4 linked regions of the Homo sapiens genome follow. The protein of the gene in region 3 interacts with the protein of the main gene of each other region in a biochemical or structural test. Each region holds a gene or a part of one and is shown on either strand. Other genes may lie near its edges. The genes, in order: EDC3, PNRC2, DCP1A and NSMAF.

The links.
Region 1: the proteins of DCP1A (region 3) and EDC3 form a complex in vitro, tested with the Homo sapiens proteins (one study listed by BioGRID).
Region 2: the proteins of DCP1A (region 3) and PNRC2 are reported together in a solved structure, tested with the Homo sapiens proteins (one study listed by IntAct).
Region 4: the proteins of DCP1A (region 3) and NSMAF form a complex in vitro, tested with the Homo sapiens proteins (one study listed by BioGRID and IntAct).

What each region holds. Positions count from the first base shown.
Region 1 is NC_000015.10:74,664,349-74,672,786, forward strand, and holds part of EDC3 (enhancer of mRNA-decapping protein 3), read right to left. Parts: intron 7,427-8,438; coding exon 7,107-7,426; intron 361-7,106; exon of another isoform or gene 35-360; intron 1-34. UniProt on the Homo sapiens protein: Binds single-stranded RNA. Involved in the process of mRNA degradation and in the positive regulation of mRNA decapping. May play a role in spermiogenesis and oogenesis.
Region 2 is NC_000001.11:23,954,399-23,963,488, reverse strand, and holds PNRC2 (proline-rich nuclear receptor coactivator 2), read right to left. Parts: upstream 3,662-9,090; 5' UTR 3,491-3,661; intron 2,561-3,490; 5' UTR 2,355-2,560; intron 2,050-2,354; 5' UTR 2,032-2,049; coding exon 1,612-2,031; 3' UTR 27-1,611; downstream 1-26. UniProt on the Homo sapiens protein: Involved in nonsense-mediated mRNA decay (NMD) by acting as a bridge between the mRNA decapping complex and the NMD machinery. May act by targeting the NMD machinery to the P-body and recruiting the decapping machinery to aberrant mRNAs.
Region 3 is NC_000003.12:53,282,929-53,288,543, forward strand, and holds the end of DCP1A (mRNA-decapping enzyme 1A), read right to left. Parts: intron 5,356-5,615; coding exon 5,137-5,355; intron 4,733-5,136; coding exon 4,652-4,732; 3' UTR 501-4,651; downstream 1-500. UniProt on the Homo sapiens protein: Necessary for the degradation of mRNAs, both in normal mRNA turnover and in nonsense-mediated mRNA decay. Removes the 7-methyl guanine cap structure from mRNA molecules, yielding a 5'-phosphorylated mRNA fragment and 7m-GDP.
Region 4 is NC_000008.11:58,593,139-58,601,576, forward strand, and holds part of NSMAF (protein FAN), read right to left. Parts: intron 8,398-8,438; coding exon 8,307-8,397; intron 8,211-8,306; coding exon 8,147-8,210; intron 6,884-8,146; coding exon 6,832-6,883; intron 6,733-6,831; coding exon 6,612-6,732; coding exon of another isoform or gene 6,594-6,611; intron 6,359-6,593; exon of another isoform or gene 6,226-6,358; coding exon 6,094-6,225; intron 4,786-6,093; coding exon of another isoform or gene 4,765-4,785; coding exon 4,722-4,764; intron 4,413-4,721; coding exon 4,249-4,412; intron 2,938-4,248; exon of another isoform or gene 2,922-2,937; intron 2,719-2,921; exon of another isoform or gene 2,662-2,718; intron 2,522-2,661; coding exon 2,422-2,521; intron 1,717-2,421; exon of another isoform or gene 1,632-1,716; coding exon of another isoform or gene 1,600-1,631; intron 1,153-1,599; coding exon 1,094-1,152; intron 1-1,093. UniProt on the Homo sapiens protein: Couples the p55 TNF-receptor (TNF-R55 / TNFR1) to neutral sphingomyelinase (N-SMASE). Specifically binds to the N-smase activation domain of TNF-R55. May regulate ceramide production by N-SMASE.

The sequences.
Region 1 (8,438 bases), on a different chromosome or scaffold from region 3:
GGAAAAGACAAACAGTCTTCCCAGATTTCTTTACCTTTCAATTACAAGGGCCATGCAAGTACTGCAGGCTGGCTGCCTTCCTGTGCCGTTTTTCTGCCACCCTTTGGCACAGAGGCCCTTTGGCCAGGACAACTTGTAACAAACCCATTGTTGTGTAACCCTCAGTGCCACTTATTTATTGGTTTTTGTCACACACACACTGTAAGTGGGAACTTTGTCCTGCACTTATCACACTAAAGGGTACCTGAATGTTAAACTACAAATGTTTTACTGCCAGATTAAACAGGCATCATGAGAAGGTGCCTGAGAATATATGGGACCTTCTTCTCAACTCTCAAATTCTAGGCCCTGGGTTTTCAAGCCTATTAGATATATGAAGCACATCCAAGGAAGTTTAAAAGTCAAGAAAACCTCAGTAGAACCATGAAAACCTGGCAAAATTCACTTCCTGCCTCAGGTGGTGGGATGACTGTTAAAATGAACAGACCGTTAAAGCCCAACCATACTGCAACAAGATAATATCGACCATCTTTCCATTTAAAAGGTTCAATTCCATCCCTCATTTCTCTCCACCTCCAGTAACAAAGAGAAAAAGGGAAATCAGCACTAAACAGAGGCACTGTCATGCCTATAGGACCACCTCTCTCTAAATATAAATGAGTTAAAGGCCAGCTATCTACTTTGTTTGTTTTGAGATGCAGTTTCACTCTTGTTGCCCAAGCTGGAGTGCAATGGCACGATCTCGGCTCACTGCAGCCTCCACCTCCCGGGTTCAAGCAATTCTCCCTGCCTCAGCCTCCCAAGTAGTTGGGATTACAGGCATGCACCACCAGGCCCAGCTAATTTTTTGTATTTTTAGTAGAGACAGGGTTTCGTCATGTTGGCCAGTCTGGTCTCGAACTCCTGGCCTCAGGTGATCTGCCCACCTCAGTCTCCCAAAGTGCTGGGATTAGAGACATCAGCCATCATGCCCAGCCTCAGCTATCTACTTTCATGTTCTACAGGCAAAAGAGCCTTAACTTAACTGTTAAATTTTTATTCAACTGCATGTTACAATGACTATTCAAGCTCATAGACTAAGATTTCAGAGAGGGATGCCTTTCATCTGCCCCTCATGGTCACCATTTTCAGCTGTGACATGGGATTTGATAAATATGAATTATACCCATACACAGAGCTGCACCCTAAACAAGGCTTGGTTTCCCTCTGCTCCCTGGGACTGATGTTATGTCTATTTGACAAACATTCTGAATGGTCACAGAAAAACTATTCTTTACATGATTCTTTAAACCCACTCCCACCCGAAAAGAGATTAAAATCTGCTTGTGCTAAATCATCAGTGTTGGATTAGCTAACTATTATAAACCAACAAATTCCTCAACTCCTTATTGCAATCCTGAAAGAACACTTAAAAGCCAGAACTGAAGACAGATTATATTTCTTTCTTTCCTTTTTTTTTTTTTTTTTGAGACAGAGTTTTGCTTTGTTGCCCAGGCTGGAGGGCAGTGGCACAATCTCAGCTCACTGCAACCTCCGACTCCCAGGTTCAGGCAATTCTTGTGCCTCAGTCTCCTGAGTAGCTGGCATTACAGGCACCCACCACCACACCCAGCTGATTTTTTGTATTTGTGTACAGACGGGGTTTCACCATGTTGCCTAGGCTGGTCTCAAACTCCTGAGCTCAGGCAACCTGCCCGTCCCAGCCTCCGAAAGTGTTAAGATTACAGGCATAAGCCACCACACCCGGCCGACAGATTATATTTCTATAGCTTCATCAATCTACTAGTCTCAATATCAATGTACATAAACTGGAGAAAATTCTAAGGCAGACCTTTTTACTTACAGGGCTCAATGAGTGGAAAAATAATTATAACTCTACCTTCTATCAGAAACCTATTCTGAGCCACGTCTTATTGCCATTCCCAGGCCACAAACATTTTCCAAACTAATCTGGATTCTACATAAGTTTCTTGAAAAATAGTAACATTTTACTGCCCTATGATCTCTTTACCTCATTTATGTACAGTTAACAATCTAGAAAAAGGAAACTGACAAAACAGCAAAAGCAGAATAACCAAAACCTGGAAGCCACCAAGATGTCCTGCAATAGGTGAATGGGTAAACAAATTGATATATCCACACAATGGAACATTATCCGTCAATTAAAGAAATGACCTATCAAGTCACAAAACGACATGAATGAATCTTAAATGCATCTTGCTAAGTGAAAGAAGCCAGTCTGAAAAGGGCTACATACTGTATGATTTTAATTATGTGATATTCTGGAAAAATGCAAAACTGCAGGGATGGTATAATAAAAAGATCAGTAGTTGCCAGGGGGAAGTGGGGGAAGTTGAACAGGTAAGGCACAAGAGATTGTTTAGGACAATGAAACTATTCTGTTTAATACTGTAATGACAGATACATGATGCTATGTATTTGTCAAAACCCACAGAATTTTACAGCACAAAGAGTGAGCCTTAGTGTTTGCAAATTTTTAAAAATCATTTAGGAGGTTAGAAGATCCCAGGATGGAATGCAGAATGTGATAAAACAAATTAATTGTATTATGAATATATGAAACAAGTCAATGAAGGAAATGGGAGACCTAAATAACTCTAGAAATGAATGGAGTCAGATGAAAGGCAAAAGAAACAGTACGTAAGCACCACATTCTGTTTGATAGTCTCCCACAGGAATGGCGATACAAGTTAATAATTCTGATACCACTATACATGTATACTGGAATTGAATAATTATGTAAAGAATGAATGACAATAGGAGACAGGTTTCTCACTGTTGGAGTGAGAAGTAACAGACAAGCAAAAGGAGAAGGCTAGAAGGATCCATGTGGTAATGGATTAAAGTTGGAGACATCAGTATGAACTCATACTTAGTATAGTACAATATACATAGTTACATATAGAAATATTTAAATATGTATATATATGCTGGTTAAATATACACACATATATTTTCTTTTCTGTGAACTCTGCAGAGAAGTATACACATTTTCTTGCTGTCAGCTATAAGGGTGACACCCAGGAGCAATGAGCATCCCTAGTGAAGAAGAAAGAAAGGAGAAGGGGGGAGGAGGGAGGGGGAGAGGGAGGGGGTGGAGGGAGGAGGAGGGAGGAGGAGGAGGAGGAGAAGCAGCAGCAGCAGCAGTAGTAGTAGTAGTAGTGGTAGTAGTAAGCATCTTTCAGTGTGAGAAAGTACCTAAGTACTAAAAAAAAAAAAAAATAAAATCCACAATGATTGGAGTATGTCAAAGGGACATGAGATCCAAGTGAAAGATTGGAGACTAGCCAAAACTGAAATAATTTGAGTACCAAAATAAAGTAATATTGAATTATAAGCCAAAGTATAAAATAAATACCCATGAGTACATGCTGATATAAATAAATGACTGAATAAATAAACAAATGGGGGAGAAGAGAGGAATCTCTGGCATAAAAGAATTCCAAGTAATGTCTGAAGATGCTGTGTCCTCAAGGAGAGGGGACATAACTTCTCACTCCCTGGGTGTGGGCTGCACATAGTGATTTCCTTCCAAAGAGTACATATGTAAAGGGGAAGAAAGAGTCACTTTACAGAGGAGAAACTAGATATATCCTACTTTAGCCAGGTGATCAAGGTGAACATCAAAAGTTATAAACCATGGTGATAATATATACACTTGACACAAGGTGATGAAAATGGTACTTTACCTCTGTTGTCTTCCACCCCCAAACATATAACCCCAGTCTAATCATGATTTAAACATCAAGTACCAACTGAGAGACATTCTACAAAATACCTGACCAGTATTCATCAAAATGTCTAGGTCATCAAAAACAAGGAAGGTCTGAGAAACTGTAAGAGCCAAGCAGAGAAATGACTACCAAATATGATGTGATATGCTGGACAGGATCCTGAAACAAGGGCATCCGGGTAAAAACTAAGGCAATCTGAATAAAATATGGACTTTGTTTAATGATAATGCATCAACATTGGTTCAATAATTATAACAAGTATACCATACAAATGTAAGACGTTAATAACGGGGAAAAATGTGTAGAAAAAAATAATATGAATTGCTAATAAGGGTCATCTTCAAGTGCACGGAAGATTATAAACTGCCTATTTGAACTTCTAACAAATCAACAATTTCTGCTAAAAGAAAAAAGATTTTCAGACAGGGCAACATAGTGAGACCTTGTCTCTACTAAAAGTAAAAAGACTAGCCAGGTATGGTGGCACACACCTGTAGTCCCAGCTACTCAGGAGGCTGAGGTGGGAGGATCATTTGAGCCTGGGAGTTCAAGGCTGTAGTGAGCTGTGATCGTATCACTGCATTCCAACCTGAGTGACAAAGCAAGACCCTGTCTCAAAAATGAATGAAAGAAAGAAAGAAAGAAAGAAAGAAAGAAAGAAAAAGGTTAAAGTCTAAATGGAAAGAATCATTTTCTATCCAAGCATTCTACAGTTTTTCTAAGGATACAGAAGTCACAACTGAATTTCAGTCTCATATTTGCAAACATCGTCATTTCAGATAGTTGTTTCATATGCACCAAAGGAAACTACCTTGAAACTGTATATTACATACATTAAAACATTTTTTTAGGCCAGGTGCAGTGGCTCACGTCTGTAATCCCAGCACTTGGGGAGGCCGAGGCAGGCAGATCAACTGAGGTCATGAGTTCGAAATCAGCTTGGGCAACATGGCATTATCCCATCTCTACTAAAAATACAAAAATTAGCCGGGCGCAGTGGCTTATGCCTGTAATCTCAGCACTTTGGGAGGCCGAGAGTTTGAGACCAGCCTGACCAACATGGAGCCCCGTTTCTACTAAAAATACAAAATTAGCCAGACGTGGTGGCACATGCCTGTAATCCCAGCTACTCGGGAGGCTGAGGCAGGAGAATCTTTTGAACCCAGGAGGCGGAAGTTGCGGTGAGCCAAGATCACGCCATTGCACTCCAGCCTGGGCAATAAGAGCGAAACTCTGTCTCAAAAAAAAAAAAAAAAAAATTAGCCGGGCATGGCAGCAAGTGCCTGTAGTACCAGCTTCTAGGGAGGCTGAGGCAGGAGAATCACCTGAACATGGGAGGTGGAGGTTGCAGTGAGCCAAGATCACACCACTGCACTCCAGCCCGGGCAACAGAGCAAGGCTCCATCTCAAAAAAAAAAAAAAATTAGTTTTAATTTAGTTGTTTATTCACTTGAATCAGGCATCTCCAAAACTTAAAATGTTGGCCCCTGACACAGGTGTCACACCACAAGCTACTAATAGAATTCACCCAGCACACTAAAACCTTACTACATTGCCACCAGGACCACAGTGTGAGGAGCAACAATGGTAGCAAGAAGTATCCGGAATTTTATGTAATAAACTTTCTGAGTGGGGTCTAGAGAGACCTAGCTCACTCTAAATTGTGCCTTTTAGAAGGTATTGCCATAGCATGACTCTAGCTTATAATTTTAAATGAGTTAATGAATACTCATTTAAAATTTCTTTTGGTTGTTCATTTTGAGACAGTCTCACACTGTCACCCAGGCTGAAGTGCAGTGGCATGATCTTGGCTAATCACAACCTCCGCCTCCCTGGCTCAAGCCATCCTTCCACCTCAGCCTCCTGAGTAGCTGGGACCACAGGTGCACGCTGCCACGCCCAGCTAATTTTTTTTTTTTTTTTTTTTTTTTTTTTGTAGGGATGGGGTTTTGCCATGTTGCTCAGGCTGGTCTCGAACTCCTGGGCTCAAGCGATCCACCTGCCCCAGCCTCCTGAAGTAGTGAGATTACAGGTGTGAGCCACTTGCACCCAGCCTCTCACTTAAAATTTCTAATACATTCTGCTACCATCTGTGAGTACAAAACCATCTAAGTAAAATAAGAATAGTTTGGCATTTGGAAGTAATTTTTTAAAACAACATTCATATTAATTTAAGGAGCATAACAGATTCCAGTGAATGTTATGATTCGCTATTGTAACATTATTCTAGTAAATATGTTGGAGAAGAACAGTTCTAGTGAATTAACTATGGTTTTGGAAGGCAGCTATGCTCACCATCATACCACCAACACAACTATGGTTTTATTTTATATTATTTATTTTATTTTTGAGACAGAGTCTCGCTCTATCGCCCAGGCTGGAGTGGCACAATATCAGCTCACTGCAACCTCTGCCTCCTGGGTTCAAGGGATTCTCCTGCCTCAGCCTCCAAAGTAGCTGGGATTACAGGCATGCACCTCCACGTCCGGATAATTTTTGTATTTTTAGCAGAGACGAGGTTTCAACATGTTGGCCAGGCTGGCCTCAAACGCCTGACCTCAGGTGATCTGCCCGCCTCAGCCTCCCAAAGTGCTAGGATTACAGGTGTGAGCCACCGTGCCTGGTCACAACTATGGTTTTATAATCAGCAAATGGCATTTAATAATGTGTTAGTATCAAACAAAACTGGGCAGCAACAGAGACCAATGCACATTCTTCTTGGTGTGTCAGTAGGAACAAATACAGCAAATTAAAAATTGTCTGCTAGAAAATCAAAGATCACAGAGATGTTTGGATCAGTCCCCTCCTCTCTTCTGAGGATGAGACTCAAATCACAGGAAGAAAAGTTACTCAAGAATCCTCTGGAACAGCCCAAGTGCAGGTTCAACTCAAACACTACTACCAACATCAGTAACAGGATTTAAGTTTTTTTTTTTTTCTTTTTCAGAAACAGAATCTCACTATTTTGCCCAGACTAGCCTTGAACTCCTGGGCTCAAACAATCCTCCTGCCTCAACCTCTCAAGTAGCTGGGACTATAGATGCGTGCCACCACGCCCAGTAGTTCCTGGATTTAAAACATCACTGTTAGTAAACTCTGGGCAGACTTTTCCTGAAGGAAGTGGTAAGAGAGGGCAGGAAGCTCACAGGCATCCCTAACAGCTTATTTCCTTTCCCTTAACATCTTGAGGAATGAGGCCTGGAGGAAGAGAACCATGTTGTATTTCTGTGACGCTCAGCCAGCATCCATTTTATTGGAATAACAAAGGATTTGTTTAAAGAGCAGCAGTGCTTATGGCTTATAGCCCTGAAACACCAGATTGAGAAGAAATATCAACTTGACCCTACTTACAGGAGTTGTGCCGACGACGGAAACTTTTGGACTGACTCAAGGATTCCATGTGCCTGTCGACATAGCTCTTTGAGCACTGTTGCTGCTGCGGGGAAACGGCAACATCCTGGCTCTTCACATCTGTCCTCTTAGGGATATTCTGAGGGGCACTGCTGGAAGAGGCTGGCTTCTTGACAAACTTGCCTGTGCCATTCTGATTGATGCCCACTTGGCAGCCAGCACCAGAGGGGCCTAATTCTGTTTGATGAAGGTCTCCAAAATGTTGGTTGTCTCCAGGTCCTGGTATCTCCAGAATTTTTAACTCCGTAATGTCACCTGCCCTGAAATACACAAAAAAGCCAAGTCTCAAAATTATAATAGTGGTAAGAATGATGAAACTGAGATCATTAGCAAACAGCTACCCCTTTGCAGGACTGCATTTTATTGAGTTATCAGAGGCTAGGAAAGGGGGCTGTGTGCTTAAGGACAGGGGTCAGCCACCAACTATCCAACTGACACAATGCTAGCCTTTAAAAAGAGGCTATTGGCCGGGCACGGTGGCTCACGCCTGTAATCCCAGCACTTTGGGAGGCCGAGGCGGGCGGATCACGAGGTCAGGAGATCGAGACCATCCCGGCTAAAACGGTGAAACCCCGTCTCTACTAAAAATACAAAAAAAAAAAAAATTAGCCGGGCATAGTGGCGGGCACCTGTAGTCCCAGCTACTTGGGAGGCTGAGGCAGGAGAATGGCGTGAACCCGGGAGGCGGAGCTTGCAGTGAGCCGAGATCCCGCCACTGCACTCCAGCCTGGGCGACAGAGCGAGACTCTGTCTCAAAAAAAAAAAAAAAAAAAAGAGAGGCTATTGCTAACAACAAAACTGTATTAATCTTACATTCCCACAATGTTTAATGGCTTTTGTTCATTCATTCACTCCCTCGCTCATTCAACAGGAGTATATAAAATACTTACTATGTGGTAAGCCCTGCACTATGAACTATTTTGATCTGGTATATAGAGATGAAAACCACTACGTGCCCACAGGAACTCAGTCTGGTCAGTGGAAAAGACAAGTACATATTCAATCAAAAGTGTTAAATGGACTGGGCACCATGGCTCATGCCTATAATCCCAGCATTTTGGGAGGCCGAGGCAGGCGAATCACTTGAGGCCAGGAGTTCGAGACCAGCCTGGTCAACATGGCAAAACCCTGTCTCAACTAAATAGAAATGATTAGTCGGGTGTGGTGGTACGCACCTGCAATCCTAGCTACCCAGGAGGCTGAGGCATGAGAATCGTTTCACCCTGGGAGGCAAAGGTTACAGTGAGCAGAGATCGCACCACTGCACTCCAG
Region 2 (9,090 bases), on a different chromosome or scaffold from region 3:
AAAAGAATATTAAGCAATCAAAACCATTTTTAAAATAAAACCAAGCCAATGGGGAAAAATTTTATTTAATTTTATGCTTCACATTCATATCATGTACATTAAGTACTACATAAACTTGTCTTTAGGCTATCAATATTTAACTTGGGCAGTACTTCATCTTGATTTATTTGGAGAAATACAGCTTAGGCATCTGCTTACCTGCTTAGGCATCAAGAGGTGCCAAATTAGAAAATAGGGCATTAACAATCAAAATTTTTAAGCTGACCCACATACTTGCTACTGGTTTCGCTTATGTTTAAGCATTTAAAGTTGGCAAAACATGTTATCAATGTATTATGCAAGAGTTTACATCTTTTGCATAAGTGGTCCATTGGGTTGCACCTACCCCTTGACCAAACAAAAACAAAACATCACTGGCACCATACTCGAAACTACCTGTATCCTAGGTTATAAGATTGTGAAAGCCAACAATCTATAAGGTTGGAGGGACTCTAGTTAATCTTTGGGCTTAGAGGAGGAAAAAAAGATAGTCCCATACTGCATTTCACATCTCTTAAAAATAGTTTTAGCAGCTTAAACCTTTTTAGTTATAAAACTTATTACACTAGGGTTTACTTTGAAATATAGTTTACAACCAAATCAAGTATAACATACATACACTGGCACTTTAGCACAAGGGCAAACTTTAAAAACAAGTTATTTTGGACCTTTAAAATTAGGCCATATTATAAAAAACAGTCCACGGTCTTACATTCAGCAAATTCATACTAAAATACTCCATTTTTGTAAGATAAAGGCCAAGAAAACTTTACATATGCTACAAGTTTATTACAGATATTTACATGGCTCTTTCTCCCCTAGGTACTTAAAATTTTCACATTATCCAACTCCCCAAAGCAAGCTTTGCAGGAATGATGAGGCCAGAGCACTATTAGAATAGCTTGTGCAGTGCTGTAATACAAAAATGTATTTTGAAAGCTATTGAGTGACCATTAAATACTGTTTCTATAAAAAATGGTTTTGGTGTATTTGTTGACAGACACTTAATCCACTACATTTAATAAACAGGGCCATTGGGGTGTACTATGTCTCATTCTAATGAGCTCCAAATGCCCTTTCCACCCACTGTACAATTCACTAAAATGCAATTATTACGAAAAATTCACATTTTCTTTCAGCAGTGCATCAGGTTAGCATATTACTGGTTTGGGTGTTTCTAATATACTAAACCTTCAGATGTTTACCTAATTCTGAATCCTTGTGTTAGCTAGAAGCTTATAATCCGATTCACCAACTTTCAACAATCTACTGGTCCATGAATGATAAATTACTGTCTTCCCCTAACAATAGAAAAAGCTGATTCCTTTACCACTCCCCAAATCTAAACTTGGTTTCCACTTAAAAGTTACTCAGTTGAGAACACTTAATATCAAGTACAATCATTAGTTTAAGTTGCACTGATACTACCATTATATCACAGTGCACACAACACGAGATGGTCTATTTTTTTTACATTAATTAGTTCTACACAAATAGATTCCCTAGCGAATTTGTTTCAGACCAATTGACAACTATCCGTGAACATAACTAAATTTAAACATTTGTCTTATTTTATACCTGTACTTTAAGTAAGGTTTTAAGTTGAAATGTCATTATTTCCTTATCTGAAGGATTAAAGGAAACAGGGACCCAGTGGCTTGGTGGTTTGGGAAGAACACTTGGTGATGGCGGCTCACTAAATTTGGCACCAGCATAGTTCTGATTAGCTTGAGATTTAAAAAGTAACCTGGGACCTGATAAGCTAGAATTCCAACTTTGATTATTTGGAAAATTTTTGTTCTTCCCCCCATTTTGCATGGCCTGCCAGGCAGCTGCTGATGAGTTATAACCATGTCCTCTTTCTTTTTTCTTATGAACAATCTTCATCTGGGAATTCTGTTCCTTGGTCTTCTGTCTGTTAAGCTGTTGTTGGTTCTTACTAACATTTCTAGATTGAGGGGCTGGAATGTTATACCTCTCTCCACCACCCATCTTCAGCTTCTTTGTCACCTACAAGTGAATGGAAACAAATATTGAGTAAAATTCCATTAAGAAAAGTTCAAAATCTTTAAGAAGCTTCTATGGCTCCAACTTATAACTCCAGATATTTTGGACAAGACTCAATAACAGGCTATTCAGCTGCTTTAAACTCAAAAAAGCAAGCCGTTCAGACTTCAATATATGCACAACCTTTATTGTTATACCTTCCCTAAGAAAAATGAGCTTACCCACAAATCTACATAATCTATTTTAAAATAAAAACAATTGGTTTAGGATGGTTCCATCATAAAATGTTTGCCCATTATGATGATTACCTTTCAGTCTGCTTTTCAGATTGCAGGATCTCCACTACCTGTCCTCTTCCTTGCTGCCAAGCCCAAGATAACAAGTGTTGCTTTCTGACAGATCCCTTCCTTTGTCTCAATACAGAAGTTTTCATGGGCCGATCTGCTGAGTTCAGCCTAGGAGCTGAGGCCAACATCTGAGTCTCCTCAGCACACAAGTTTGAGAGAAGTCCTAGCTAGAAAAGTAAAGATTACTTCATTATTTCAAAAACACGTTGAGAAAGTGATCATTTAGATTTACTACGAAAATCGTTGACTGTAAAGAAGGCTACTTCCTGAACTAAAAGGTAGAAAATTTCTCGTAAGATGGCTTTCTTTGACCTTATAACCACGACCATTTAAAAAAACTCTTCACCCTTGAGATCCAGTCACTCCTGGGGAATTTTTGTAAGTGTCTCCAAGTCCCGCAATAAGTTTTATCTTTATCTTTTTCCTGGGAAAGACCTTCAGATTCTCTCGCGTATAAAATCAAGGAAGTGTTAAATGTTGAGTCATATCAAAAAATTGGCTTCAGGCGGATTTTCTAAAGAGACCGTGTTTTTAAACTCCCACCAGAATTTTCCAATCTTTCCACACATGTCACATCCATTTTCAGTCTCTTGGAACATGTAGACATCACGCAGTGTTTCCTTTGGTTATGAACGCTCTCGCCTCCTCCCCGTCTTAAAATAAGTTCTCACAAGCCCTAACAGTCTAAGCCCATCTTAAATATATAAAAATGTCTCCCTAGAGGGAACAGCTTAACTTTCAAGGTTTGGTTTTAATTTGATGTTCCAAGAAAATAAGTTACCAAATAGTTAAGCCCCCTCCTTTCAAAGGGGTAAGAGAGCTTTCCAAACAGATAAACAACCCTAAATAAATTGCCATTTCCGGACTGTGAGTAATTCCCAACTCGAACCCGGAAAACGCCTCCTCCGACGCCACAAGGGCTTGGCTTCCCAGTGGCCCCATCTCTCCGGAGCCGCAGGGGTCGCGGCGCTGCGACCGCCCGTGACCGCCCGCGCCCGCCCGGGTTACCCGGATCTCGCCTCCGCTCGCCTCCTTCCTCCAACAATGGGGAGCGCGGCCACCAACATGGCCGCGCCCTTAGCGCAGCCGCTACTTACTGACTTCAAGCTCGGAACTAACGCGGCAGCGGCTCCCTCTCGACGTCGAAGCCTCCCTCCCTTTCCAGGGAGAGACGAGGCACGGACCGACAAAGCCCACGAACACCGATGAGCGAGCTGCCGGCCACCCCAGCTTCTACAACCCGACCTTCTCCTTCTGCCTCTACCGACAAAATGGAGTCGGCAGCGACTGCAGAAGCAGGGCCGGGAGGCTCCGCGGCCAATCAAAACACGACAGCGCGGGCCTGGCCAATGAGAAGCGGGCCGCCGCCTGTTGCTGGGGCTGGCCGGGGGCGAAGGCGCGGAGGTGGGGCTGCAGAGGGTTTGAAATCTGCCCGGGGAGGAGGAGCATGCCGGGAGTAACTGCTCGGTCCACCGGTGTCTTAGTCCTTTCTCCGGCGGCCTCTCCGCGCCCCTGGCCCGCCGAGGCCCCGGCCGCTAGCTCTCGGCTCTTCCTACCGCTCGGCTCTCGTGCGCGCGGGCTCGCCGCCCTTGGGACTGCCCTGGGGGAAAAGACTGACCGGCGGGGGACGTTTGGTTCTCGAATTAGGGCCACTGAGTCCTGTAGCCTGTATTGACAGATGGAAGATACTCCGGAAAGCCTCTTGCCAGGGCGCAGCCCCCTCCCGCCTCGGGCCTCGGCTTCTGGGTCGCCTCTCTCCCACACCCACAACTCCGCGTCCGAAGCCGGCGCCTCCCCGCGGTTCCCTCCAGTGCCCCCACCCTCCAGCCCCGCAATTACTCAAAAGTTGCCTCCCTGTGAAGGCGGTTCAGACACACGCGGGCAAGTCAGTCACTTCCTGCTTGGTGGCCCCATTGGTCCTTAAGTTCAATTAGAGCCCTTTACGCGCCGTGTTACCGTTTCCTGTGGCTGCAGCTCTCCCCACCCACACACCCTCGAGGGCCACAACCGGTTAGGTTTTGTTTCTCTGAGCACAGCGCCTTCGCGCGTTGTAAGTGCACAGTAAGTTTGCTGAAAGAATGAGGACTGCTCTCCTCCCCTTTCTGCCCCACTTGTAAGTGAAAAAGGGGAAGAAAGAGAATATTGTTCAGTTGATTATGCCAGCCAGATGCAGGTAAGGGGAAAATGGCAATTTCTTTGGAGTAAATGTATAAGTAACCCAATGTGAATCTTTTAAAAGAGCACTAATTTCAATGAGCGTGAATAATTCTGGGCCAAACGGTACAAAATCAGTCTCATTCACAGTTTGTTCGTGTATACACATATATACCCAAGTTTACGTTACAGAATTTATATTTACCAACTTTTTATAAATCTCATGTAATTCGTTATTTTTGAGACGGAGTCTCCTTCTGTCGCCCAGGCTGGAGTGCAGTGGCACAATCTCGGCTCACTGCAACCTCCGCCTCCTGGGCTCAAGCGATTCTCCTGCCTCAGCCTCCTGAGTAGTTGGGATTACAGGCGCCTGCCACCACACCCTCCTAATTTTTGTATTTTTAGTAGAGACAGGATTTCATCATGTTGGCCAGGCTGGTCTCAAACTCCTAACCTCACGTGATCCGCCCGTCTCAGCCACTCAAAGTGCTGGGATTACAGGCGTGAGCCACCACACCCGGCCTGTATTTCGTTTTTTAATCTTCAATTTTTTGCCACCGTTATCCCCCACTTCCCAATCCAACCCAAATTCCTATATTCTAGCCATTGGATCTTAAGAAAAGTTACTGCATCTTACGGGATGCAGTTTGTTAATCTAATTTGATAAAAGAGGTATTTTTGAGCATAGGGACTTTCTGATGCTAATCATATTCAAATAAGAAGTATGTGGTAAACCAACAGGTGTCTTAGTGAAAGTGTAATCTGTTTTCCAAACATTCAAGAAGTTTGCTTAGACGTCTAGCCAGATAATAGCCAGCTGTATTTAATGAATTTTTAATGGTGTCACTTTAAAAAACAAAAAACAAACAAAAAAACACTTCCGTGGCTCCAAATTGTGATACGGAATAAAATCTAAACTCTAAACGTTTAGAAAATTATTCAAAGCCATTGCAGTCTAGAGTTAGTCTTTTCATGGCAGGGCATGGCTCACACCTGTAATCTCAGCAATTTGGGAGGCCGAGGCAGGAGGATCACTTGAGCGCGGGAGTTTGAGACCAGCCTGGGCAACATGGCAAAACCCCATCTCTACAAATAACAATTAGCTGGGCATGGTGGCACACGCCTGTAGTCCCAGCTACCTGAGAGACTAAGGTGGGAGAATCACCCGAGCCCAGGAAGTAGAGGCTGCAGTGAGCTGCGATCACAACACTGCACTCCTGGGTGAGAGTAAGACACTGTCTCAAAAAAAAAAAAAAAAAATTCATCTCTTCAGCCACTCTGAATTTTATCTGCATAAACGCACACATAACATTGGAAATGTATAAACCCACACAGAGTATCCTTACTCTGCCCCCTACCCTGTGCTAAATTTTTTTTTCTTACATCATTTCATTTAATCCTCACAATAATGTTGTGAGGTAGGAGCTGTTTTCATCCGCACTGTACAGATGAAGGCTCAGACGGTTTCGAGTTGAAAGCCAGGTACTAGGATTCAAGAGGCCAGGCTGCAGGTTGCCTGCAGCATCTGTGCTCTCCAGCACCTAAAAGGTTTTTTGCTCAGAGCAGACACTGACTGTTGACTGGGCTGCCGGGGCTGTTCGGGCAACAAGAAGCCTCCATCCTACCATCTGGCAGAACCAGTTTCTTTGCCAGAAGGTCAGAGTCGAGATGCCCTTGGGGAAAGCACTGTTAAAGCTTTTACTGCGTCCCAGACTCCCAGCACCCTCTCAGGCTAGCTCCAGCCTCATCATTCATTAGTATTTACCAAGTGCCCGCAACAGCTCAGAACTAGAGAGGAGAAGTTAAAATAATACCTTTTTTGGGACATCTGATACAGCCTCTGCCAGAACCATATGGTCTTTAAACTCAGCTCCACCAGCACAATCCTATTAGCAGTTCTCAATTCAAATAGGAAAATGTTGATGCCGACAAACAGCTCTCAGGATACAGCTCACCTAAACTGGAAGCCAAATGCATAATAAATACATGGATGTTTAATACAAAATATTTAGCAAAGATTTATCTGGTGCCTACTTTGTGCCAGGCACTATGCCACGCTCTGGGGATACAGCAGTGAAGGAGGCTCCATCCTGGCCCTAAAGGAACCCAAAAGCTGTTTCCTTTACAATTTACCAGAGAGGGAAACTAGTGTCTGGGAAGATTTATTCCCTCCCTTCTTCCCCTGAGAGTCAAGGACAGGCAAGGCCAAAATCAGCCTGCTAACCTCACTCAGGAGGTGCAGGTAACAAACATTGTTACTGGACCCTGCAAATAAAGTAGAAAAGGAGGGGGACTCTCACAACTTGCTGAAATTTTTTCACTGGAGGATCTGTTTTGAGCTATGTATCAGTGGCAACCAAAATCAATGAAATCATTAGGAAAACATTATCTACCTAATCTGTAAGTAGAGGTGGAGCAAAAAGCAAGTGTTTCTGGGCCGGGCACAGTGGCTCACGCCTGTAGTCCCAACACTTTGGGAGGCCGAGGTGGGCAGATCACGTGAGGTCAGGAGTTCGAGACCAGCCTGGCTAACTTGGTGAAACACTGTTTCTACTAAAAATACAAAAAATTAGCTGGACGTGTGGCGCATGCCTGTAATCCCAGCTACTTGGGAGGCTGAGGCAGGAGAATCGCTTGACCCCGGGAGGCAGAGGTTGCAGTGAGCCGAGATCGCGCCATTGCACTCCAGTTTGGGCAACAACAGCAGAACTCTGTCTCAAAAAAAAAAAAAAGAAAGTGTTTCTGAAAGCCCAGCTTTGGGGGAGAGACAGGTTGTAGGCTGAGGCATACAACTGCACCAGTGCCGGGGTAGTTGGAGAAATCACCCAGGTTTGCCATGGCTTTGGAATAAGTATATAGTAGAATCGACTGGCCTTCAGGCTGAGTCTCAGTTTCTTCATCTGTAGAATGGCAATCCTCCCTGTCTTGTAGAGCTCATGGTAGGAGCCAATGAAATAATAAATGTAAAAGCACTTTTATGATGTAGATTTAGAATACACCTGTAATTCCAACACTTTGGGAGGCAGAGGCGGGAGGATCACTTGAGCCCAGGAGTTCAGGACCAGCCTGGGCAACATGGTGAAACCCCATCTCTACAAAAATTACAGAAATTAGCTGGGAGTGGGAGGTGGTGTGCCCCTGTGGTCCCAGCTACTTGAGAGGCGGAAGTGGGAGAATTCCTTGAGCCCAGGATGTCGAGACTGCAGTGAGCCATGATCACACCACTATACTCCAGCCTGGGCAACAGAGCAAGACCCTGTCTCAAAAATAAACAGAACATGCTAAAAACGTTAGGTACTTTAATATTATCCCCCAACTCCACCCCCGCCCTAGCGAGTCCATTTCAAAACAAAAGCTGGTTTGGTTCTTTTTCTTCTTTAAGCTCATATATGAAATCAGATGGTCAACTTTGAATGTTTTTGCAGGTCTGTCCGCTCAGGGCTTAATTCAGTTTGAAGAAGCAAGCAAATTCTTAGAACCTGCCAGAAGAGTGAAATGGAACACCTGCCCACTGTTTCGATGTGCCTCAGAGCTCTGATCTTGTTGCCAAACTGATTGCAAAACACACACCCCTCCCCACACCATGAATTCATTTCCTGGGGAAGCATCTGCTGCCTCCCTGCTTGCTCAGACATTCCTGAGAAGTGTCAAATCTGTTCTTAACCATTGCAGCCATTTTGGTCTAATTACTAAACGGGGCACAGGAAGTCAATGATGAACTCCCACGCCTCCTGTCGACGCTGATCCAGGGGTCCAACCTTCAAGACCCTTAAAGGATTCTGATGCCCAGACCCCATCCCAGAATCAGAATCTTTGAGCACGGGGCTGCGGCTATTCCAATCCAGTTGATTCCAATGTCTCACTCCAGTTGAGAATCACTGCTTTCAGTTTTGCTAAGGGCAATCCCCTGGTGTGGAGGCATGTTTATGAAGGAGACCCCCTTTGTCCTATGTAATTCTCAAAGTTGGTGATAACACCAAATAACCCCAACAAGTCAGAAACTAGCTCCGGAACACCCAGAGTTGTTTAGATTAGCTTTTAAAAGTGATTTTCACACAGGTGGACTCCCAAGCTCGGCCATGGGGTTCCTTGCTAGTTTGTTGATCCCAGCCGTCTAATTCTTGGCCCATTCCAGAGTTTTGGCCTCAGTCCCCAGGCCAAAGCTGAACGGAGAGACGGGCAGCGATCTCTCCAATGGCTGAACGGAGAGATGGGCAGCGATCTTGAGAGGAATTTATGAAACAGGCTGAGACTGCTACCTGCATTGATAGGAAGAGGAAATCTGGAACACACCGTGCTCACTCCCCCCAAAATAATGGTATATCGGAGCCATCTATTTACATGTAAGACCATAACAATGCCTGTCCCCCAACTATTCACACCTGTGGCATGAGGAAGAGACACACCATCCCCAGCTCAGAAATAATGGGAGGCTCTAAAGAGAATCAAAGGAGACATGAAACCACTGAAGCTCCCACACAGTGTTTGGTTGACAGTATTCTCTGGATTCCTGTAAAACATGCTTGCTTTATCACTTTCTACG
Region 3 (5,615 bases):
CTCCTACGCTGCAAACTTGTACAGCATGTGACTGTACGAATACTGTAGGCAACTGTAACACAAGGATAAGTATATGTGTATCTAAACACAGAAAAGGTCGGGTAAAAATAGGGTTGTAATTCTATGGGGCCACTGTCATAAATGTGGTCTGTTGTTGACTGAAATATCACATGGTACATAACTCTATCTTCTCTCAGGTCTGTTTCTCTGGAGAACCCTGACTATACAGGCTGGAAACAGGTAGATAACAGTTTTCTTTTTTCTCTGTGTCAGACAGGTAATATGCCGACATTGTAGCAATGTTTCAGGATGGCCCATCTCACACCTGTGTGTGAACACCTAATCCTTATGCTTAAGAAGTACAAAAGGATCTGATAACAGTTTTGTCGGTTCTGTTTTTTTGCCTCATCCCATTTCACCAGTATGGCACTCTGCAAAAGTGCAACTCATTCAAAAGTCCCTATTTCTACAAATTAAATAAAAACACAATTAAATTTTAGTAGGTGCTAAAACTTGGTTTTGAAATTTTATTAAAAAAATATATTTGCAAACATATAAAATTTAAGATGAAAAACGCTCATTTTAAAACATGTAATAACTTAATATTTGCAAACATACACAGATGCTATAAAATCCATACCATTAAAAATGTTAATGATACAGTATTGCGCTCATGGAACAAAAATCTTGCTGTAATTCCAGAGCTTCTCGTCCCCATGTTTCAGGGAGCTGAGAATCTGGTACAATGAAAGTCATGAGAGCCACATGGCCAAAGCAGTAATACAGAATAAAAAACCATTTAGAACACATATTTTAAAAACATGTTTCTTAAGGAATCACACAGATAAAAAGGAAACACAATTCTGCATTTTCCCCACTTTGAAGTGAATGATATTGCATCTTAGCATTTTAAATGAAGGTGTCAAATACAAAACGGAGGGAATCACTGCACACATCTGTTGAATTTGCTGAAAAACAGGCTCCTCAAGGCCCTGGTCCACTCGGAAATGTTCTCAAGCACAGCTGTAAAAAAGCCTAGTGTAAGCTGCTTGACTTTGCTCAGATCTTAGCATTTTAGAGACTTGAGAACACAGGGCACTATTGGTTCCAGAAGATACACTGAACGCAACTGAAGAAAACTGAAGGGAGGCAAGAAAGAAAAACATACTCTGCAGCAAACGTGCAGCCAGGATGCAGGATGCGCACCCTAGGATTCCTCAGTTCTCCTCACTCACACGGGCTGAGCCCACTCGTGCCTGTGCCACCTCTCATTCCTCTCAGAGTTACAGTATGATGGCTGATTTTGTTTTTTGAGCAGTTAGGCACCTTCAATTTCATGTTGCATTATTAGTAATACAATGGCAGTTAGGGCCTCTACTATGGAAATGAGAAAATTTCAAACTACATTCTTTGGGGGAGGAGAGTAATAAAGCTGCATGGTTTAAAAATTTACCTAGTAGTGGATTTGATAGGGTTTATATAATTTCTACAAGAAAACATAAGCCAGGAAAAGGACAAATGCTTGACATGCAAAATCTGGTTAGACATATACTAAACTAAGCCTGTGTGTCCCCCTGTAGAGAGGGGCCCAGCGTGACTTTTTTTTTTTTTTTTTTTTTTTTTTTTTTGAGGTGGAGTCTCACTGTCGCCCAGGCTAGAGTGCAGTGGTGTGATCTTGGCTCACTGCAACCTCTGCCTCCCGGGTTCAAGTGATTCTCCTGCCTCAGCCTCCTAAGTAGCTGGGAGTATAGGCGCGTGCCACCACGCCCGGCTAATTTTTGTATTTTTAGTAGAGATGGGGTTTCACCATGTTGGTCAGGCTGGGACTTGGGTTCTTAATAAAATACCACTCTCTGTGATGGCTACATCTAAGCCTTTGAAGGTGAGCTGTGGACATACCACATGTGGACAGCATGAAATGCTTCTTCTGACACTGAGAGTCACTTGAAAAACTTGAATTCAAAGTCAAGCAGGCCAAATCTCACACCTCATGAATCCCAGGAGGTACACAATGAAGAAGAGCTTCTGCCTTAAAGGAACAAGGCTGTCTGGGAGGCCTGAGAGTCCATTAAAAGACACCGCATTAACTACAACAAAAAGAAGAGCAGCACCACCCACCAGTGGTGCCCCAGACACACCTCTCCTCCAAGCTCTGGGCTGCTCCTCTTGGAGTCTACACTTAGACCCTGGGGGTGGGGGTGGGCACACAAATGGACAGAGTGGTCTAAATGCAGGTCTCCTGGGGTTCTGCGAAATCTAGCCAGAAGCATCTCCATCTCGGTGTCCATTTCGATCCAACTAAGCTTCCAGTAAAGACACTGCAGCAATGTAAACATGCAACCTAAGCTAGCATGAGGTTCTAGATAGTAAGCCTGAACTAGGAATAAGGCAACTGAACTGTGACTTTCGGGCCAGGGTCATCCAGCTGCAATTATCCAGGCTTGGCCTGGCTTCTCTAGGGATTCATTCTGGCCTGAACTTCCTGGTAATCATGACATGAACTTCTGGCTTCTGAATTTTAAGTAAATACTTTGAATATATAAATTTGGGAGGTGAAACAGGTTTACCCTTTTCAAGTCTCCATGACTTGGGCACTTAAGTTTACTTTCACACTAAGGAAGCCTTATCATAGATGCTCTTTACTGTCTATCATATCCATTCCTAGCATTAAAGGTGAAAATTAGTATGATCACAGACTCTCTTTAGGATATTCTCTCTTAACTCTCTCATAATATTACATACTCAAAAGCATAATTTCGATTCAAGAATCCCTTGATTCGTCTGTTCACCGAAGCCCACTGAGACTACACTTGAGGTGCAATCACACCTACTGGTGCGTCCACTTTATGGAAGTCACGTGGCTCCCTGGACACCATCTCCCGGTGTCAGCAACACTCTGTATCCCACTATAGCTTTCTCGTTCCCAGATGATGCATAAGGAATTCATTTTTGGTTGCTTAATTTACATACTATCTGTGAAAACAAACTATTCACAATTGAGCATGAAAACTTATAAGCTTCCCTGAATTCTGCACAATTCACACATAATTAGGTAGACAGCAATAGAAGACACTAAAATGAGAAGCAGAAACCCTGTCCAGGAAGCATGTTTAGATCAACAAAAGCCAATCATTCTTTATGCTAAAAACTAAGACCAAACTAAAACAAGTATGTAATTCACAAGTAATTTTCTAAAATTTTAGCTAGAAAAAAATAATCTATGGACTTATGATTGAGTTACCATTAAAGCTTAAATGATTGTTCCTAAGGAACCATCATATCTGTCAGCATTATTCACAGCTAATCCTTATGCTAGCTGGTTGAGCCAATTGGGTTTTTACCCCATCATTAAATAGTGCTCAGAAAAGTAAGCAGTGCATCTTAATTGGTTAAATACTACAAAATGACCTGTATCATAGAAACGAAGACACTTTCATTCAAAGAATATCTTAAAATTACTATTGCTGAAATAAATCAAAATCTACATTAAAATATTACTAAACACCATTACATGCCATAAAAGAATAAATAGAAATCATGGCAGATCAATAGCAGCATAACAAAGCTTCTTTACATATTTTCACACTTTGGGCCGGGAAAGTACTCACAGCCTAGGAATACATTGGTAGAGTTCGGAATCACATTTTCTTTTAACTCCATAATTCTACAACAAAATAAGGGCAGTGTGAATAACAGCTCCCTTTTCTGCATAGCTTTAAAACTATTCTCAGTACACTCAAGGAAAGGAACCAGAATGGCTTTGTCAGATTGGTCCACTGGTCCTTTTGTCAAAGTGTTAAGGAAAACAATCAACAATGACAGAAAAGGAAAATAAGGCTGTGCTTCACACACAAACTTAGCATTTTCAGAACCAATGGAGAGTTTAACCTAAAATGAAGATTTGATAGGATGTGGGCATTCCCAGCCCCAGCCTTTCCTTCAAAGGTATGACATGCCTGTGTCCACACCACCAGAGCCTGACAGTGCCCTATTCAAATGGTAATGCTGCACTGGGGGCCTGCTGCAGGGCAGGACTGGGGCACTTAAAAACAAAATGCTATTAAGAAATTTCACAACTTTTAAGGCCCAAATGGGGCATTCATATAAAATATACTTCACTTGAGGAAATAATTCCTAATTTGCCGGCTTAAATTCTGGTCCTAAAAACTAGAAGCTACTTTGCAGAGCTGCCTTCTACTCTGTTCAAAACTTGACTTGTCAGCCCAAAGCCCGTTTCTATGGGGTAGGCTGGGGGAAGCGGTGGGGGCCGGGCTGAACTTCTGCTGTGAGGCTGGTGACTACTCCTCTGTAAGTCCTTGAAAGTGAAAGCAAGCTGAGAATCTGACTCCTTATTCCACAGCCTTGCTCCTAGCTGATGAAAACACCCACATAACTTAACACAATGATCGCTCTCTTTTTTTTTTTTTTTTTTTTTTTTTTTGTCAAAACAAGGATCTGCTGGTGATGCTTCACAGTGAAACCTCCATTATCACTGAGAATGTCACTTGGAAAACATTCTTAAGAAATGAGTCTCTTTCTCATAGGCTCAATTTCAGGATTCTCAAACTCAATGTTCTGCTCAGAAGTTTCCATGATGAAGCCTATTTGTCTCTGAGGCTGGGGCTCTGCCTTTAGACTTATTCTGCTCCAGTCATAGGTTGTGGTTGTCTTTGTTCTTGGTCAGAACCTGCAAGTAGACTTCATGAAGTGTACTGAGGAAGCTGGAATCATTCTAGAAGAGATGGTAAAGGTTAAGGATACGAATGCCACATTTACCTCATCAGATTTTACTTCCTTGGTAACAGCTTAGGAAAAAAATTGTATAAATGATTTGTATAACTGATAATCCCACCACCCAGAGACAATCATGATTAATATTTTGAGTTCATGCAGATATTTCTCCACCAGGACTGTATGCTTAAAAAAAGAGAAACAGTACTCCCAGCTAGTCTGTTTTTGTTTTTTTTTTGCCTGCCTTGGCCTCCCATAGTGCTGGGATTACAGGTGTGAGCCACTTTGCCTGGCCTCCAGCTAGTCTTTTGAATTTACTTTATGAACTGATTCTGTAAGAGGAATTTATAAAATTTCTTTCATTAAATAATGAAAAATCAAAGATAAAATTGGTATCCTACATACCTTTATTAGATGTATTAATGTATCCTGGAGCTGAGACTTGCTGAGAATAATGGAAGGCTTTCTCTGACTTTCTGGCGTTCCAATAGTTAGAGGAGAAGGGGAGCTGGCTTTCCTCTCAAGGTCCGAAGATCTTGTAACTGTCTGCTGGAAAACACTTGGGGCCAGCAGGACTGAAGACACTGCAGTGGTCGTTGCAGTAACCAGTGGGGCGCCTGCAACCTGGAGAGTGACAATGGTCATTTTGTACCGAAGTGCAGAAGCCAGTAGCCAGGCCCAGAATAGGGACCATGTGGAAACAGGCATAAGCAGCAGAAGAGTGGAGCACAGAGACAGACTATTTTGAGTTCAGGTAAACATTCAGTAGGAACATGTGAACATCTGACATCTGGTTATAAACTTCCATTAGCTAAAGGATGACCAGCCCATTTATGTAAGAATGTCCTAGAATCATTACGGGAAGCCAAGTCCAACCACCACAG
Region 4 (8,438 bases), on a different chromosome or scaffold from region 3:
TTTTGGCAAACTCCACAGGTAGAAATCCTGGCAAAATACAGATTGCTTCCTTCTATCAGAGAAGTGCCTCGGTGACCCTGGCATGGCCCAGTTTGGGAACTGCACATGAACTTCCTTTTGATCTACTGTGTAGAATCACTTCTATGCTTTGTGGAAAATTTTTTTATATACAATCCAAGACAGTATTTGAAAAAGAACAGAATGAAATGCTACAGATCATAAACAATGATAACAGAATCTGAGAGTAGTAATTCTGATTTTCCTGAAAGTGTTTAGTTGGATAGCACTTTGTCTTAATGAATGAAAAATATAATCTCCTATGATAAAGACTAAATAACGAGTAGCCTTACTTTATAAAGTTACAAACTTTGTCAGAACAAGTTGTTTTCTCATGGAAGCAGGAAGCAAAGATACTACCCTTCCATCTCTGCATCTTCCAGAGTGCCAACACAGTGCTCTCAACATGACAAGGCCAAGACATACTTTAATGAATAATATATAATGCAGACTACCAGGGAGAGAACAATGGTGTATATAGTAAGGGATGCTTTCTGCTTTACAGCTATAAGTCATATCAATGACACACTGCAAGGGTTTTTATAATTTTGATAATGTATAAGCATATTAAATAATACATGAATTTGATTTTGAGCTAAATCAAATATCCCGAAGAAATATACACTGAATGACAAAACTGCAAACCGTAACAGCAAATCTGCATTTCCACGTGCTGACAGGCACACATCAATTTCTGATACAGCACTTGCTACTCACAGCCAACCCCAACAAGTGGACAGCGCACCTCTCATGGGCAGGCAGGAAGTGCCTGACCCAGCAAGGGTGTGGAAAGGAGGCTGTTTCTGTCCTCTATCCTCAACTCTGGGAAACCTCATCAGCAACAGAAAGATGTTTCATTATTATTTTTGGCAAATTACCATGAAACTCTATGTAATGTACCACAAAGGAACTGCTCTAAGTTTACTTTATGTGGAGGCAGCACATGCAAGTGCAGTCCTTGACCACGAGCTAAATAATAAAGAACTCAGACATTCTAGGATTTTGGTTAAGCCGCCTTTCGGGGAGGAACACTGACCTTGGGATGTTGTGAATACTGAAGATCCATTGCGAGAGACCGTGATTCCAGTAACTGCTCTGCTCAAAAACAAAGTTTCACAAATTACTACTCATCATGTGTTAGGATACCCTCTTTGTTTCATATCCTTGATTTAATTTTACCAAGTTTCCTTAATTTTTTTCTTCACAGCATGTCTGCCGGATCTGTCCCAGCATAAACCTGCCATTACCAAATCACTGCTTGGCACCTTCTAACGTTCTGGCAACGCCTGTGGCTAGAAAACATCCCCACTCTTTGCTTCCCTGTGTTCCACATGCAATGCTTTACATATTCCTGACAATTTCTGGCAATTGGAAAACTCTTCTCCTTCTATTCCCCCTCGTTTGACCATCACCAAAAGGACAAACTCTTCTTCACAGTCACTTCACTTGCTGATTACTGAAGCTAATTTACTCAGTGACTATTCAATGATGAGAAAATTGGTTCCAGCCTGTCCTCTTAAAGGATCATTCAGTCTTCACTACCTTGGATTACAAGGTCCCTTCCTATGTGCCATTTAGAGAAGTTGAGAAAAGACAGCCATTGTCATCATGAATCAGCCAAAACTCCTTGTTTCTCTTCGGGAGGCTGGACTGTGATGTGAAGCCATCCATCTAATGCACAGCAGTATGCCCAGCTCCACCCATGACCTGTATGCCGGAGGGGCTGTCTGTCGTCATGGAGCTAGGTGGGGCCTAGTCTCTGGACCTGGGTTTCCTCTCTGTAGCAGGATGAACAGGCTAGGTCAGTGCTTCTCGAGCCTTTCTACCAGAGAACATGAAGGTCTTAATGAGAGAGGGCAGAGAACACACATATCATCTCTGGGTCCAACAGCAAGCCCAATTTCTTAGAAGCATAATTATTTTTAAAATTCATGTGAACTTTGCAATGTTCTCTGGGAGAGCTAATTTTTTTAAAAGGTGCCTTTTCACCTACATTATGTGTAAATCCAACACTCGTGGGGTATACATCACACTTCTCCCATCAAAGATTCAAGGAGCTGTGTACTCCAATTTGAGAGGCACAAAACTGGCTGCTCTCTGCCGACCACATCTTGTACTGTGAAGTGACAGACTGCAGAAATGACAGCACGGTAGCCACCACAAATCATTTCGTGCCAAACTTTCCCTACTACATCAACCTCAGGTGGAGATCACTATAGACATTTTGGGGAGATTTTTAAAAATAAAGACAACATTGAAAGGGAATTTTCCCTCTGACTCAGCTTAAAACAGTTTAATCCCATGCCAAGACCCTAACTTTTACCAGGACTATCAGCTGCTGAGAAGAAGCAGAGATATTCTTACTCTTTGTGGATTTTATAGTGCTCGTGTAACTGCAGTTTGGTGATGTTATTCCAGGCCAGTGTTTTGCTTTCTTCGGTCAGGTCTTCAAAAGACTCTTCACCTGGAGAGACGACATTAAATTTTTGCTAAGTCAACTAAGTTACCAACAGACAACAGCATCAGATTAACAATATTTTCTATTAAAATCAAACAACTAAGAAATGAAACACCCTGTCACAATATAACTGCTTTGAAATGTACCTGTTAGATGGTTCCACGTTAGTCAAGGAAAAAATTGTATAGAGAAAGATAAAAAGTATCTTTGAATAATACTAGAATCTTTTTATACTTTAACAATGTTTGCAAAGTTTTCACTCGGCCTCTAACTTATGAATTTGGGGAAATACAAGACTGAGTCATCATTTCCTTGTCAACATTGTTTCAAAAACCTGACAGTTGCCTAAGAATGCAACAATTTTGTTCTGGTGTGGGGTGGGGAAAGCAGAGATGAAATCAATTACCGCAAGGGCTTCTGGCAGGAGTAATCCTTTTACTTCTGCTTTAAGAAGGGCTGAAACAATTACCATCTTAAAACAATCACATGACAGTGGTTACAGCCTGGTGACTAAGCAGAGTGCAGTTTGAAACAGCATCACAAGATAATCCTGTGATCTTCATGATTTAACCCTCTAGAGTATTCTCTCTTAAAGAAGCTACCCCTGGGTCATGTAACTCCAGGAAGCTATTTCTCCATGCTTGAGAGAATGCTCATCTATGTATGCCTAAAATGTCTGGATGTCCTTGGAACAGACAGGAGGATAGGAGATAAAAAGTGATTTTGCTCCCAAAGCTCCACAGAGTGTCAACCTCCTTCTGGAAGCCTGTAGGTTTGAAGTTGTCTTAGGTAAAATCTAAAACCTGGGTAACTGGAGAAAGGTGAGTGTTCTTTCCTACCTTTCCAAATATTAGATGTGAGAACTGGGTCAAGTTCAATTTAGTGCCTAGCACATGCCCAGCGCAGAACAGATACCCTGTAAATGTTTGTCAAATGTTAAATAAGTGAAATCCAATGAAGAAGAGAGAGCACTTTGAATTCAAGATGTATGTGGGGCCGAGCGCGGTGGCTCAGGCCTGTAATCCCAGCACTTTGGGAGGCCGAGGAGGGTGGATCACGAGGTCAGGAGATCGAGACCATCCTGGCTAACACAGTGAAACCCTGTCTCTACTAAAAATACAAAAATTAGCCGGGCGTGGTGGCGGGCGCCTGTAGTCCCAGCTACTCAGGAGGCTGAGGCAGGAGAACGGCGGCGTGAACCCGGGAGGCGGAGCTTGCAGTGAGCCGAGATGGCGCCACTGCACTCCAGCGTGGGGGACAAAGCAAGACTCCGTCTCAAAAAAAAAAAAAAAAAAGATCTGTATGTGGGTATAGAAGAGCATAATTAGGGCCAGAGAAAGTCCCTTCTGGAAGACAGCAGGGCTGACAGTGACTGGGAAGGCAGACTGGACAGCTAGGACTGTAAGAATGAAAAGGCAAATAGCTAAGGATCAAACACCAGCTTCAAAACCACAGAAGAGAAAGAGAACCACATCAAAACATATATGGCCAACTTTCACTCATATTCAATTGCCAGAAAATAAAAGCGATTTGATTTCCCTTACAGTCTATAGCTGAAAACAAACAACATCAGCAAAAACAGGTATCTGTTTTCAGGAGAACTGCAATAAGGCAGGAGAACACAATCATCTCTAAGTAGCACAACAGTATACGTCTTATCTCCTCTTCAGAAACATTTTCATCACAGAAGAGAAACAAAAGGTGCTCACGTTTATTCTCTTTACAAAATTTACCTGGGGAATCTGCCATAGAAGCATTATAACTGGAGGTCTGGGACAAACTTTTAAACTTTGGGGTGATCCTTCGAGGATGTGGTGTCACAAATAGTTGTTTTGGTGTCTGCCCAAATTCCAAGATTTGCGTAAGCATGGCTACCTTCTCATCAGGATCCTGGATGCTTTGGGACAGAACACAAATAATGCAGTGAACCACTAGGTTCGAGTTCCTTGAAAGCACGCATTTCAAATAGTACTGATCAATAGGAGGGACTAACCCTCAAATAATGACAGCAACTATGTACCAGGATTGTCTAAACCTCATTATAGACCTTCAGAATATTTTCTGATGCTCAGTAACACAACAGTGAAAGCAAGATAGAATTCATTTTAAAATTTCCATACCTCAACCTTCAAATAAATACATTAATAATTTAGATAAAGACATATCTTATAACTCAAGTAGAAACTCCTTATTGACATATAAGTACCTGTTCAAGTCTACACCTCCTTCATAGGTCAGGGGATGAAATACTGAAAAAGACATACAAAACACTATTGAAAGATGTGCTATTTCAATGTAATATACACTGTTTAGAACCTAAACAATGCAACAACTTAAAACTCATGTTCAAAGAAATTGCTATTCACTTTGCAAAACAGACTAATATCCAACTGCAGTAAATACCAACTTGAATATTATCTTCAGATGAACAAAAATCTACTTGTCAGGTAGAGGACCTGTCATCTCAGTCAGCATTGTTTTCTCCTGAGAGGAAGCATGACTTATAGAATTAATAAGACGGAATTTCCATGTAAAAAATTAGGTCTGAATTTCCAGCTACAGCTCCTTGTTATGAACATGGGCGATATGGATTATATGTGAGTTCATTTATTAAAAAAAGAAAACACACATGAGAAACGTGGAAGAAGATAAGCATTGAAACTGAAGAGAAGGTATATTGCTGCTATTTTCTGTTAAATTAAAAAAAAAAACTCTGGCAGCTACTTGGGAGGCTGAGGCAGGAGGATTGCTTGAACCCAGGAGCCAGAGGTTGCAGTGAGCCAAGACTGCACCACTGCACTCCAGCCTGGGTGACAGAGCAAGACTCTGTCTCAAACAAAAAAAAAAAAAAAAAAAAAGAAAAAAAAAAGAAAAGAAAAGGAAAAGAAACTCTGGGTCTTCCATAGGAATTGAGGCCACTGTTCTATCACACTGTAATAGAGTTTTAATTGAAATTATTCAGTGGGATGTAGAGTATATGCTAAAATTAGAAGACTTTATAAAAAGACCTCTTGGGGCCAGGATGAATTTGGTATTATTTGGGCAAAAGTCCTCCCTCCTTGTCAGTTACTCAATATCTAATCCAGGGGCTGGGCGCAGTGGCTCACACCTGTAATCCCAGCACTTTGGGAGGCCGAGGTGGGCAGATCACCTGAGGTCAGGAGTTTGAGACCAACCTGGCCAACATGGTGAAACCGTCACGACCAAAAAAAATACAAAAAAATTAGCTGGGCATGATGGCAGGTGCCTGTAATCCCAGCTACTCGGGAGGCTGAGGCAGTAGAATCACTCGAACCAGGGAGTCGGAGGTTGCAGTAAGCCAAGATTGTGTCACTGCACTCCAGCCTGGTGACAGAGCAAGACTCCATCTCAAAAAGAAAACCAAAAAAATATCTGATCCAGGGTCATGCAGCCAGTGGACGCTGGAGTCTGACAGAACATGCTTCCACTGAAGAAATAAGACTAATTGCTTTGGCCTCATTTTTTTGTTGGTATTGTTTGCTTTCATTTTCCAATGAAAATGAATAATGCTAAATATTCACCCAATGCTAAATAAAATTTCAATGAATATTACATACCATTATGGGCCCCAACTGCATCACTCCCTTTTTGTTTGTAGCCAAATATTAGATCAATCCACTCGTGAAGGTGTTCAGACACATAATTGCTTTCCAATGCATCTTTGCTCTTCTGGAGAAAGTCCTCGGGACCTATTAGATTAGACTCAATCGAAAAATCATGGAGTCTTCATTTTTTTCCTCCCATTTCTCTTGTCTATCTATATGTATATAAAGCTTCTAGGACAGGCAAGAGGTCCATATTTCTTAATGCAGTTTTCTTTTTCTATCATATGAAATGTAAGTTTTTTGGGGAAAAAAGTGGCAAGAATCATTTTCACATTAAGGTCTCTCAAATATATATTAATGTTTTTACATCACAGACTCATAGAATACTTCTGATATGGAATAGGGCTCATATATCCTTATTTAGAGAATTATATTGTGATTTTTAAAAATCTAAGCAATAAAATAATTACTGAAATTGCACTACTTGGTAAAGCATGTCTATAATACAACACCTCCAAGGGGGGACTCACTGGAAGCCCAAGGGGGAAGCTCCACGTCGTCAACCATCTGTCCTCCTTGTCTCTTTCCCAAATCCAACTTCAGGCTATTGACTAGAAAGCTCACATCATCACCATAGAATTCTGGAATTAACTGAAAGTTTCGGGGAAAAATAAAAAAGAACAACAAACATGTTTTAAAGCAGTTAGAAACCCCAAGTCCAGTTACTCATCAGCTTTATTAACTGCTTACCTCTTTAAAATCCGTTGCACCATCCAGACAGTTTTTCCAAGTTTCTGCAATACTACATATGAAAAAAAAATTCACCTATTTTCAGCTAAGGAAATAGCAATAGCAGCATTTCCTATGCACTTGGGGGCTGTTCTACACTTTACCTGTATTAACTTCTGTTTGTCATTTCCACATAGTTCTAACCATCTCTCTGAGTGTCCCACTTTAACAAAAGGGAACACTGGGGCCCAGAGAGTTTATGTAACTTCTCCAGGGTCACATGGCGGGAGTGGGCATAGAGTCCGAGTCCACACCATTAGCTACCATATACACATTGCCTCATCCAAGGGCCAAATGGAGCAGGGTGCCTCCACACTGAAAGATTAGCACCACTGGTAGGGCGCGGTGGCTCACACCTGTAATCTCAGTACTTTGGGAGGCCAAGGCGGGTGGATCACGAAGTCAGGAGATCAAGACCATCCTGGCCAACATGGTGAAACCTCATCTCTACTAAAAATACAAAAATTAGCTGGGCGTGGTGGCATGCGCCTGTAGTCCCAGCTACTCAGGAGACTGAAGCAGGAGAATCGCTTGAACCCGAGGCGGAGGTTGCAGTGAGCTGAGATTCTGCTCACTGTACTCCAGCCTGGGCGACAGAGCAAGACTCTGTCTCAAAAAAAAAAAAAAAAAAAAAAAAAGATTAGCACCACTATCTGAATGGCTCATTGCAAAAGGAATTATTATTAGATATGTGTAGAGTTCAAAAAAAATGAAAAGGACATACCAAAAAATTTACAACAATTATTATCTCAGTGTGGTGGGATACCAAGTAAACTTATTTCCTTTTTTATAGTTGCTGATTTTTTTGGCAAGAAAATATTACTTTTATAATTTAAAAAGTAAAGCCATCTAAATACACACAGGGAGCTGTATTCAATTCACAGCAAAATTATCAAGAATAATAAAGTGTGGGAAACAATCTAAATGCCCAACAATGGAGAAAAGAAGTTGACATAAAATATGGCATATGTTAGAATGTGATACAATAATTTTAAAAAAGAATCATTGTTTTGAAGAATATCTAATAATATGGGAAAAACTTTAAGATTTAATATTAGGCTACAAAAGGTAGGACAAAAAGCTGTACATAAAATATGTTCTCACATTTACACACACATATACATGTCTAGAAAAAGCCTGAGAGGAATAGATAGAACAATTAGTGATTTTTTACATTTCTTTACTTTTTTATTATATCCAGTGCTTTGAAACAAGTATGTTGTATATATACAATCAGAAAGTGTTAAAAATGATAAGCAAGGCATTTGTATCAAACCTGTTGAACATTCTATCTGCATTATCAAATCTTCCATTCTGCAGGCACAGCATATACTCTGGTGCTAGAGGGGAAAAAGTCAGAGGTAAGTCAGGTCACAGAATCATTGAAGAATACAGTGAAATAAAATTTAATTGGGGGTAATGATAAAGAATCTTACCAATCCTAACAAGATAAAAAAGTACATAACCCGGGGAAGAGTAGTGACTCCCATACATGAACTTTGGTTCAGGCATTTCCTGGTAGCGTGTCTAGAATACAGAAAAAAAAAAAAAATAGAGCTAAGTGTTGG